Homo sapiens: one gene and its partner. The protein of the gene in region 2 interacts with the protein of the main gene of each other region in a pairwise test. Each region holds a gene or a part of one and is shown on either strand. Other genes may lie near its edges.

Evidence for each region.
Region 1: the proteins of GPR152 (region 2) and RTN3 interact in binary tests that used the Homo sapiens proteins (3 or more experiments, as listed by UniProt).

The regions. Positions count from the first base shown.
Region 1 is NC_000011.10:63,753,527-63,757,440, forward strand, and holds part of RTN3 (reticulon-3), read left to right. Parts: intron 1-135; coding exon 136-182; intron 183-2,585; coding exon 2,586-2,644; intron 2,645-3,914. UniProt on the Homo sapiens protein: May be involved in membrane trafficking in the early secretory pathway. Inhibits BACE1 activity and amyloid precursor protein processing. May induce caspase-8 cascade and apoptosis.
Region 2 is NC_000011.10:67,448,854-67,454,116, reverse strand, and holds GPR152 (probable G-protein coupled receptor 152), read left to right. Parts: upstream 1-1,387; 5' UTR 1,388-1,392; coding exon 1,393-2,805; 3' UTR 2,806-2,816; downstream 2,817-5,263. UniProt on the Homo sapiens protein: Orphan receptor.

The sequences.
Region 1 (3,914 bases), 3.7 Mb from region 2:
AACCAGGATTTCTCATTTTGAGGAATGCCTGTGTTTTCCTGTATTTTTTGAGGAAAAATGTATATGTTACTCTGAGTCTTAAGATGTGACTGTCTCTCATATACACTTGCCATGTCCCATGATTCTGTCTTACAGCTGAACTGCTCATTTTCAGTGTCCCGATTGTCTATGAGAAGTACAAGGTAAGCATTTATCTGTTCCAAATCAAATGTGCCAGTTGATGTATGACTAGTTGTAGTTCATTTCTGAGACATTGAATGTTCAGAGCAGTCTTTTTATAACTATTTCTACAATCTAATTTTGTGAGTCAAGTGCCTATAAGAAACTGGTGGCAGTAGTTTCCTCCAAGGAGAGAAACTGGATATTTAGGAGAGAGATGACTAGGAAAGAGAAACTTCCTTTTTATACTTGTGTGCCTTTCGAGTTTTTAATCATGTAGATGTATTTTCTATGCAAAAGTAATAAGTTGAAAAAATGCTTAGGCCAGGGGTGGTGGCTTGTGCCTGTAATCCCAGCACTTTGGGATGCTGAAGCGGGAGAATCCCTTGAGCCCAGGAGCTCAAGACCAGCCTGGGCAACCTGGCAAAACCTTGTCTCTAAAAAAAAATAGCCGGATGCAGTGGCCTGCACCTGTAGTCTAAGATAGGAGAATCTACTTGAGCCTGGGAGACAGAGGTTGCAGTGAGCCGAGATCATGTCATTGCACTCCAGCCTGGGTGATGGGAGTGAAACCCTCTCTCAAAAAGGCCAGGAGCAGTGGCTCATGCCTATAATCCTAACACTTTGGGGGGCCGAGGCAGGCAGATCACTTGAGGTCAGGAGTTCGAGACCAGCCTGGCCAACATGGTAAAACTTCATCTCTACTAAAAATATAAAAATTAGCCCAGTGTGGGGCCAGGCACGGTGGCTCACGCCTGTAATCCCAGCACTTTGGGAGGCCGAGGCGGGCAGATCACGAGGTCAGGAGATCGAGACCATCCTGGCTAACACGGTGAAACCCCATCTCTACTAAAAATACAAAAAATTAGTCGGGTGTGGTGGCAGGCGCCTGTGGTCCCAGTTGCTCAGGAGGCTGAGGCAGGAGAATTGCTTGAACCTGGGAGGTGGAGGTTGCAGTGAGCCGAGATTGCACCACTGCACTCCAACCTGGATGACAGAGCAAGACTCCATCTCAAAAAAAAAAAAAAAAAAACGCTTAGATGGGAGATTGAGACCACGGTGAAACCCCGTCTCTACTAAAAATACAAAAAATTAGCCAGGCATGGTGGCGGGCGCCTGTAGTCCCAGCTACTCAGAGAGGCTGAGGCAGGAGAATGGCATGAACCTGGGAGGTGGAGCTTGCAGTGAGCCGAGATCGCGCCACTGCATTCCAGCCTGGGCGACAGGGAGACTCTGTCTCAAAAAAAAAAAAAAAAAAATGCTTAGATGAATAAAAGCCGGGTGTCTAAAAGGAAACTTTAAACTCTAGGTTATTCAGGTAATCCATCAGTGTGATGAGGTGTTTGCATTGTTGGATGATGTGTACCAAGTATACTAGATGCCATGAGATTATTCTTTATGGATTAAGTCATCCATCAAGAGACTTTTTGGCTTTTTGGTATTAAGTGAATTAGTGTTACACAAGAGCCATAACATATTTATGATGACAGAAAATAGATTAGACACACAGTTTCTAGTCATTGGAAACTGTTATATACTCCAGTGTCTCTAAAGAAAATACTTACCAAGTAAGACTTAACCTCTGCAAAAGATGAGTGATTTTTTCACTTTAACAAAGTGTGGGGTGTTTATGGTGTAATTTGGATTCTAAAACCAGAGGTTTTAAAAATACTTTTAAGGCTAGGTGTGGTGGCTCATGTCTGTAATCCCAGCACTTTGGGAGGCGGAGGCAGGTGGATTGCCTGAGGATGGGAGTTCAAGACCAGCCTGACCAACATGAAGAAACCCTGTCTCTGTCTCTATTAAAAATACAAAATTAGCCAGGCATGGTGGCGCATGCCTGTAATCCCAGCTACTTAGGAGGCTGAGGCAGGAGAATTGCTTAAACCCGGGAGGTGGAGGTTTCGGTGAGCCGAGATCACACCATTGCACTCCAGCCTGGACAACAAGAACAAAATTCCATCTCAAAAAAAAAAAAAAAAAAAAAAAAAAGGCTGGGCACAGTGGCTCATGCCTGTAATCCCAGCACTTTGGGAGGCCGAGGTGGGTGGATCACGAGGTCAGGAGGTCGAGACCATCCTGGCTAACACGGTGAAACCCCGTCTCTACTAAAAATATAAAAAATTAGCCAGGCGTGGTGGCGGGCGCCCGTAGTCCCAGCTACTCGGGAGGCTGAGGCAGGAGAATGGCGTGAACCCGGGAGGTGGAGCTTGCAGTGAGCCAAGATAGCGCCACTGCACTCCACCCTGGGCGAGAGCGAGGCTCCGTCTCAAAAAAAAAAAAAACTTTTAAAAACTGGGTGTTTTCATTTTCTACACTGGTCAGTCGTGTTTAAAAAATGGTTAAACTAGACAAAAGAGCCGTGCCTTCAGGAAAATTGGTGATCTGTATGTTACCACAACTGAATTTATTTTCCTTCCTTAAAGACCCAGATTGATCACTATGTTGGCATCGCCCGAGATCAGACCAAGTCAATTGTTGAAAAGTAAGTACATTTAGAGACCACATCATCATGAGGTATGCTTCCTTCCCCCCAATTATCTTTAGTCCCTTGTACAAAATGCAGATGCCAAGGAAAGTAATTTTCATTTTGATAAAAACCTTAGTTAATAGTTTCATTTTACTAAAAATTATTATAGCTGCTTCTATAAAAAGGAAAAAAAATCCTTTATATCTTTTTCTGGCCCTGCCTTCTGGACCTTTGTAGGCCAGGCATTTTGACTCACATCTGTAATGCCAGTGCTTTGGGAGGCCGAGACAGGAGGATTGCTTGATCCCAGGAGTTCAAGACCAGCCTGGGCAACATAGCTAGGCCTTGTCTCTACTAAGAATAAAAAATTAGCTGTGCATGGTAACACGTGCCTTTAGTCCCAGCTACTGGAGAGGCTGAGACAAGAGGATCAATGGGAAAAAAAAGATCAGTGGAATTTTTTGGAGACAGGGTCTTGCTTTGTCACCCAGGCTGAAGTGCAGTCTCGACCTCCTGGGCTCAGGTGATCCTCCCACCTCAGCTTCTCCAGTAGCAAGGACCATAGGCTACTCTGCCTTTTTGAACTGGCTTTTAAATGTTCTTCATTACAGGCTGGGCACGGTGGCTCACACCTGTAATCCCAACACTTTGGGAGGCCAAGGCCGGTGGATCACGAGGTCAGGAGTTCGAGACCAGCCTGGCCAACATAGTGAAACCCCATCTCTACTAAAAATACAAAAATTAGCCAGGTGTGGTGGCATGCAACTTTAGTCCCAGCTACTCAGGAGGCTGAGGAGGGAGAATTGCTTGAACCTGGGAGGCGAGGTTGCAGTGAGCAGAGACCATGCCATTGCACTCCAGCCTGGGTGACAGTGAGACTCCGTCTCAAAAAAAAACCAAAAAGTTATTGGTTGCTTCCCCACCTTCATTTATTTTCACATGTATTCATTTAAGCCAAACGTATCCCTCTCAGAAACAAAAGTTCTAGTAAATAAGTAACTTAAGGATCAAAGTTGTCTTTTCTAAGATTGCCAAATCTCTGTTCCCATTTTTTTAAACCAATTAATAAATCAGGAAATAAAATATTGACAAACATCTTTATGACTCCCTATATCAAAGAGTTGTTTTCTTCTTTTTACTTTTTTTCCCCATACCTAGAGGACAGTATTTTTTTTCTTTTTTCTTTTTTCTTTCTTTTTTGTTTTGCTTTCTAGAGACAGGGTCTCACTCTGTCACCCAGGTTGAAGTGCAGTGGCACAAGCTGAAAGCTCACTGCAGCCTTGAC
Region 2 (5,263 bases):
TTTAGCAGCTCCAGGAGACAAACAGGGGTCACCTCCTGCCTGAGCTGTGGGAAGCGGGAGAGGGCCGCGGTGGGGTGGAAGATGCTGGAGAGGCACCAGGGGCTCCTAGGATGGCCCTCCTGACCCCAGGCTGTGGGGTCCTGAGGCTCAGAGACCTCATCCTGAGCCCATGAGTGACACTCGCTGGAGGGGAGGGGGTTCCCACTGCCCCAGACTCCCTACCTTCGGGTCCCCTGGGCCCATGGGAACCAGAGCCCTCCCTTCTTGGAATCCTAAACACTCGAACCCCAGAGGAGCAGGCATAAAGGGGCCTTGTGATGAGCGGACCAAACGGTCTTCAAACTGTGTTCCCTGGAACCCTGGGGGGTAGGGGTACTCTTCCCTCCCTTAATTTGAGCACCCCCTTTTAGTCCATATAGGAGTTCCACTAGAATACTTTTTTTTTTTTTTTTTTTGAGACAGAGTTTTGCTCTTGTTACTCAGGCTGGAGTGCGATGGCACGATCTTGGCTCACCACAACCTCTGCCTCCCGGGTTCAAGCGATTCTCCTGAGTAGCTGGGATTACAGGCATGCGCCACCACGGCCAGCCAATTTTGTATTTTTAGTAGAGATGGGGTTTCTCCATGTTGGTCAGGCTGGTCTCGAACTCCCAACCTCAGGTGATCCTCCCAAAGTGCTGGGATTACAGGTGTGAGCCACCGTGCCCGGCCTTAGAATACTTTACTTACAGACAAAATTCCATACCTTTAACAATGTTTGAAAGCCTCCGGGTTAGTCTATCCGGACCCATTGGGATTCTACATGGCAGAAGATTAAGTCTGTCTGGACAGTGTCTCATGCCTGTAATCTCAACATTTCAGGAGGCCAAGGTAGGAGGATCACTTGAGCTCACGAGTTCAAGACCAGCCTGGGCAACACAGTGAGACCTTGTTTCTACTAAAAATTTAAAAAGTAGTGGGTGCACACCTGTAGTCCCAGCTACTAGGGAGGCTGAGATGGGAGGGTCGCTGGAACCCAGGAGGTGGAAGCTGCAGGGACTGTGCCACTGCACTCATCCTGGGCAATAGAGCAAGGCCCTGTCTCTCAAAAAAAAAAAAAGAAAAGAAAAGAAAAGTCTGGGTTGAGCCCTGGCACCTCCCTTCCTACCTTCACTGATTCTCTGAACCTTCCTGTCCTCGCCTGTAAAGTAGATTGTATGAGGACTCCATGAGGTCATCCACTTCAAGTCCTTGGCATAGGATAATTACTCAAAAGGTGATGACAATGGCGCAGGGAGGGATGGTGACTTGCCTGGAGATGCACAGCACCGTCTCTCCCATACTCGGTCATTCACACCATCATTGATTCACCAGGCACCCACTCCGTGTCCAGCAGGACTCTGGGGACCCCAAATGGACACTACCATGGAAGCTGACCTGGGTGCCACTGGCCACAGGCCCCGCACAGAGCTTGATGATGAGGACTCCTACCCCCAAGGTGGCTGGGACACGGTCTTCCTGGTGGCCCTGCTGCTCCTTGGGCTGCCAGCCAATGGGTTGATGGCGTGGCTGGCCGGCTCCCAGGCCCGGCATGGAGCTGGCACGCGTCTGGCGCTGCTCCTGCTCAGCCTGGCCCTCTCTGACTTCTTGTTCCTGGCAGCAGCGGCCTTCCAGATCCTAGAGATCCGGCATGGGGGACACTGGCCGCTGGGGACAGCTGCCTGCCGCTTCTACTACTTCCTATGGGGCGTGTCCTACTCCTCCGGCCTCTTCCTGCTGGCCGCCCTCAGCCTCGACCGCTGCCTGCTGGCGCTGTGCCCACACTGGTACCCTGGGCACCGCCCAGTCCGCCTGCCCCTCTGGGTCTGCGCCGGTGTCTGGGTGCTGGCCACACTCTTCAGCGTGCCCTGGCTGGTCTTCCCCGAGGCTGCCGTCTGGTGGTACGACCTGGTCATCTGCCTGGACTTCTGGGACAGCGAGGAGCTGTCGCTGAGGATGCTGGAGGTCCTGGGGGGCTTCCTGCCTTTCCTCCTGCTGCTCGTCTGCCACGTGCTCACCCAGGCCACAGCCTGTCGCACCTGCCACCGCCAACAGCAGCCCGCAGCCTGCCGGGGCTTCGCCCGTGTGGCCAGGACCATTCTGTCAGCCTATGTGGTCCTGAGGCTGCCCTACCAGCTGGCCCAGCTGCTCTACCTGGCCTTCCTGTGGGACGTCTACTCTGGCTACCTGCTCTGGGAGGCCCTGGTCTACTCCGACTACCTGATCCTACTCAACAGCTGCCTCAGCCCCTTCCTCTGCCTCATGGCCAGTGCCGACCTCCGGACCCTGCTGCGCTCCGTGCTCTCGTCCTTCGCGGCAGCTCTCTGCGAGGAGCGGCCGGGCAGCTTCACGCCCACTGAGCCACAGACCCAGCTAGATTCTGAGGGTCCAACTCTGCCAGAGCCGATGGCAGAGGCCCAGTCACAGATGGATCCTGTGGCCCAGCCTCAGGTGAACCCCACACTCCAGCCACGATCGGATCCCACAGCTCAGCCACAGCTGAACCCTACGGCCCAGCCACAGTCGGATCCCACAGCCCAGCCACAGCTGAACCTCATGGCCCAGCCACAGTCAGATTCTGTGGCCCAGCCACAGGCAGACACTAACGTCCAGACCCCTGCACCTGCTGCCAGTTCTGTGCCCAGTCCCTGTGATGAAGCTTCCCCAACCCCATCCTCGCATCCTACCCCAGGGGCCCTTGAGGACCCAGCCACACCTCCTGCCTCTGAAGGAGAAAGCCCCAGCAGCACCCCGCCAGAGGCGGCCCCGGGCGCAGGCCCCACGTGAGGGTCCAGGAACACGCAGGCCCACCAGAGCAGTGAAAGAGCCCAGGGCAGACAGAGGAACCAGCCAGTCAGACAGGTGGGGAGCCGCCGACAGCTTTGTCCTTAAAAACCCTGCTGAGTCCGTCAGGCCTGGAAGGAGGACTTGAGGGAGGGGAAACAATCCAGCCAGAAGTCTCAGGCAGTTCCATGTCAGCGACCCCTGCTCCCGGCCATCAGCCTTTTCTGTGGTTGCTCCCAACACACACACAGTCGCCCGACAGCCCCCAAACCGCAGCTAATGGCATCTTGCGGGGTACTGTCCCTCAACACCCCAGACCCCGCTGACTATTCTTCCCTGGGCCTCAGTCCTGCTGGAGGAAGACAACAGGGGGCACTTTCCCCGGGCTTGACCTGACCTCCCTTTGGTCCTTCCCTCCCTCTCCTCCTCCGGGCCTGGACACAAGGACGTGAAACAAAAAAGTCCCTGAAGAGAAGGGGGCCTCCCAGGAGCCACCAGCCCCAAGCAGGAGCCTAAGGCCCTGGTGAACCACAAGCTGGCCTGGCATGGCCAAGCCTGGTCCACTAGTCCCCTTCCCCCAACAGTCATTGAGGCTGGGGCAGGGCCTCCCTCAGCAAGGCGCCAGAAGAGGCAAGAGCTGCCTAGCCTGGATTCAAATCCAGCTCTGCCATGTCCCAGCTGAGCGACTCTGGAGGAGCAACTTCACCTTCCGAGCTCCCGTGTCATCAGCTGTTGAGAGGATGCAATAAGAAAGTGTGTAAGGCATTACAAGAGCCTGGCGCACGCAGGGGCCTGGTGAACTAGCCTTTCTTCTCCTTCATCCACATACAGGATGTCCCTTTAGAGGCTGGGGATGGATAGAGGAGGCAGTGGGGAGAGCCACCACCTGGCCCAGGCATCTGGGATCTTGTGACCTGTCTGGGCCGTAGACACCCAGGTGGCCTAAGACCAGGAGGCCGCCTCTGTGCCTTGGGGGCCTGCAGGGGACTTCAAAGTCTGATTCTATTTAAAAGTTCAATTAGCATCCACCTGCTCCCCACCTCCCGTGGAGGGCTGCACAAGATTCTTTGTGGGGGCTGCAGGTACAGAGGGCCCCGATCCTGCCTGAATAACAGCCTCCCTCTGTCTGAGCCCAAGTGCACAGATAGGAAGTTGTCCAAGCACACAGAGCTCAGGGCACCAGTGGGTCTAGGAAGGGCAAAGGCAAAGACGGCCGGGCGCGGTGGCTCACGCCTGTAATCCCAGCACTTTGGGAGGCCGAGGCGGGCGGATCACAAGGTCAAAAGATCAAGACCATCCTGGCCAACATGGTGAAACCCCGTCTCTATTAAAAGTACAAAAATTAGCTGGGCGTAGCGGCGCACACCTGTAATCCCAGCTACTCGGGAGGCTGAGGCAGGAGAATTGCTTGAACCCGGGAGGCAGAGGTTGCAGTGAGCCGGGATTGTACCACTGCACTCCAGCCTGGCGACAGAGCAAGACTCCATCTCAAAAAAAAAAAAAAAAATTAGAAAGGGCAAAGGCTCCCAGAGGTCACACAGCTTCTCTAGGGCAGAACCAGCTCTTCCCTCTCAAGCTGCTGATGCTGCAGAAAAAACTAGAAGTGCTGAAGGTCTATCTTCCAACCCCCACTCCACTTCCCTTTTCCTACCCATCGTCCTCTCCTGGCACCCACCCCACCTGCGTTCTCCTTACCCCCAGTGTTCCAGTCATGCCCCCTTATCCCATTAGCTCAGTATCGTGACCTTCAGCAACTGAGACGCCCTTTCCGGCAGGTGTAAATGACAATGATGTCAGATGTGCAACCCTTCCCAGAGACACCTGCATTTTCCAAATGCAGCAGGCTGTGCAGGCAGCCTAGAGTGATACAGTCAGGTCTGGGTTCTGGTTCCTAACTTCCTTCCTCTCAGCCTGTTTTCTCCTCTGTAAAATGGAGTGATCATGTTCCCCTTGCAGGCTTGGCAGTTCTGATCATTGACTGAGCCCAGGGATGGGAAGTGCTGTGGGCGGTGGTGGTGGTGATACCAGAAGCATAGTCGTAGTGATGGAATTGCGGGCACTGAGGCCCATGGGAGAGAGATTTCTGGCCAGGCATGCATTTATTGAATTCATTCATCCAGTATTTCTTGGGCACTCGCTAGATGCCTTTCTGGCCAGCCTTCCATTCTGGAGCCACTTGGGTGAGGTTAAGGGTTTGCCCTCTTGGCTGGGCGCAGTGGCTTACGCCTGTAATCCCAGCACTTTGGGACCCTGAGGCAGGCAGATCACAAGGTCAGGAGATCGAGACCATCCTGGCTAACATGGTGAAACCCTGTCTCTACTAAAAATACAAAAAAAAAAAAAATTAGCTGGGCGTGGTGGTGGGCACCTGTAGTTCCAGCTACTCGGGAGGCTGAGGCAGGAGAATGGCGTGAACCTGGGAGGCGGAGCTTGCAGTGAGCCGAGATCGCACCACTGCACT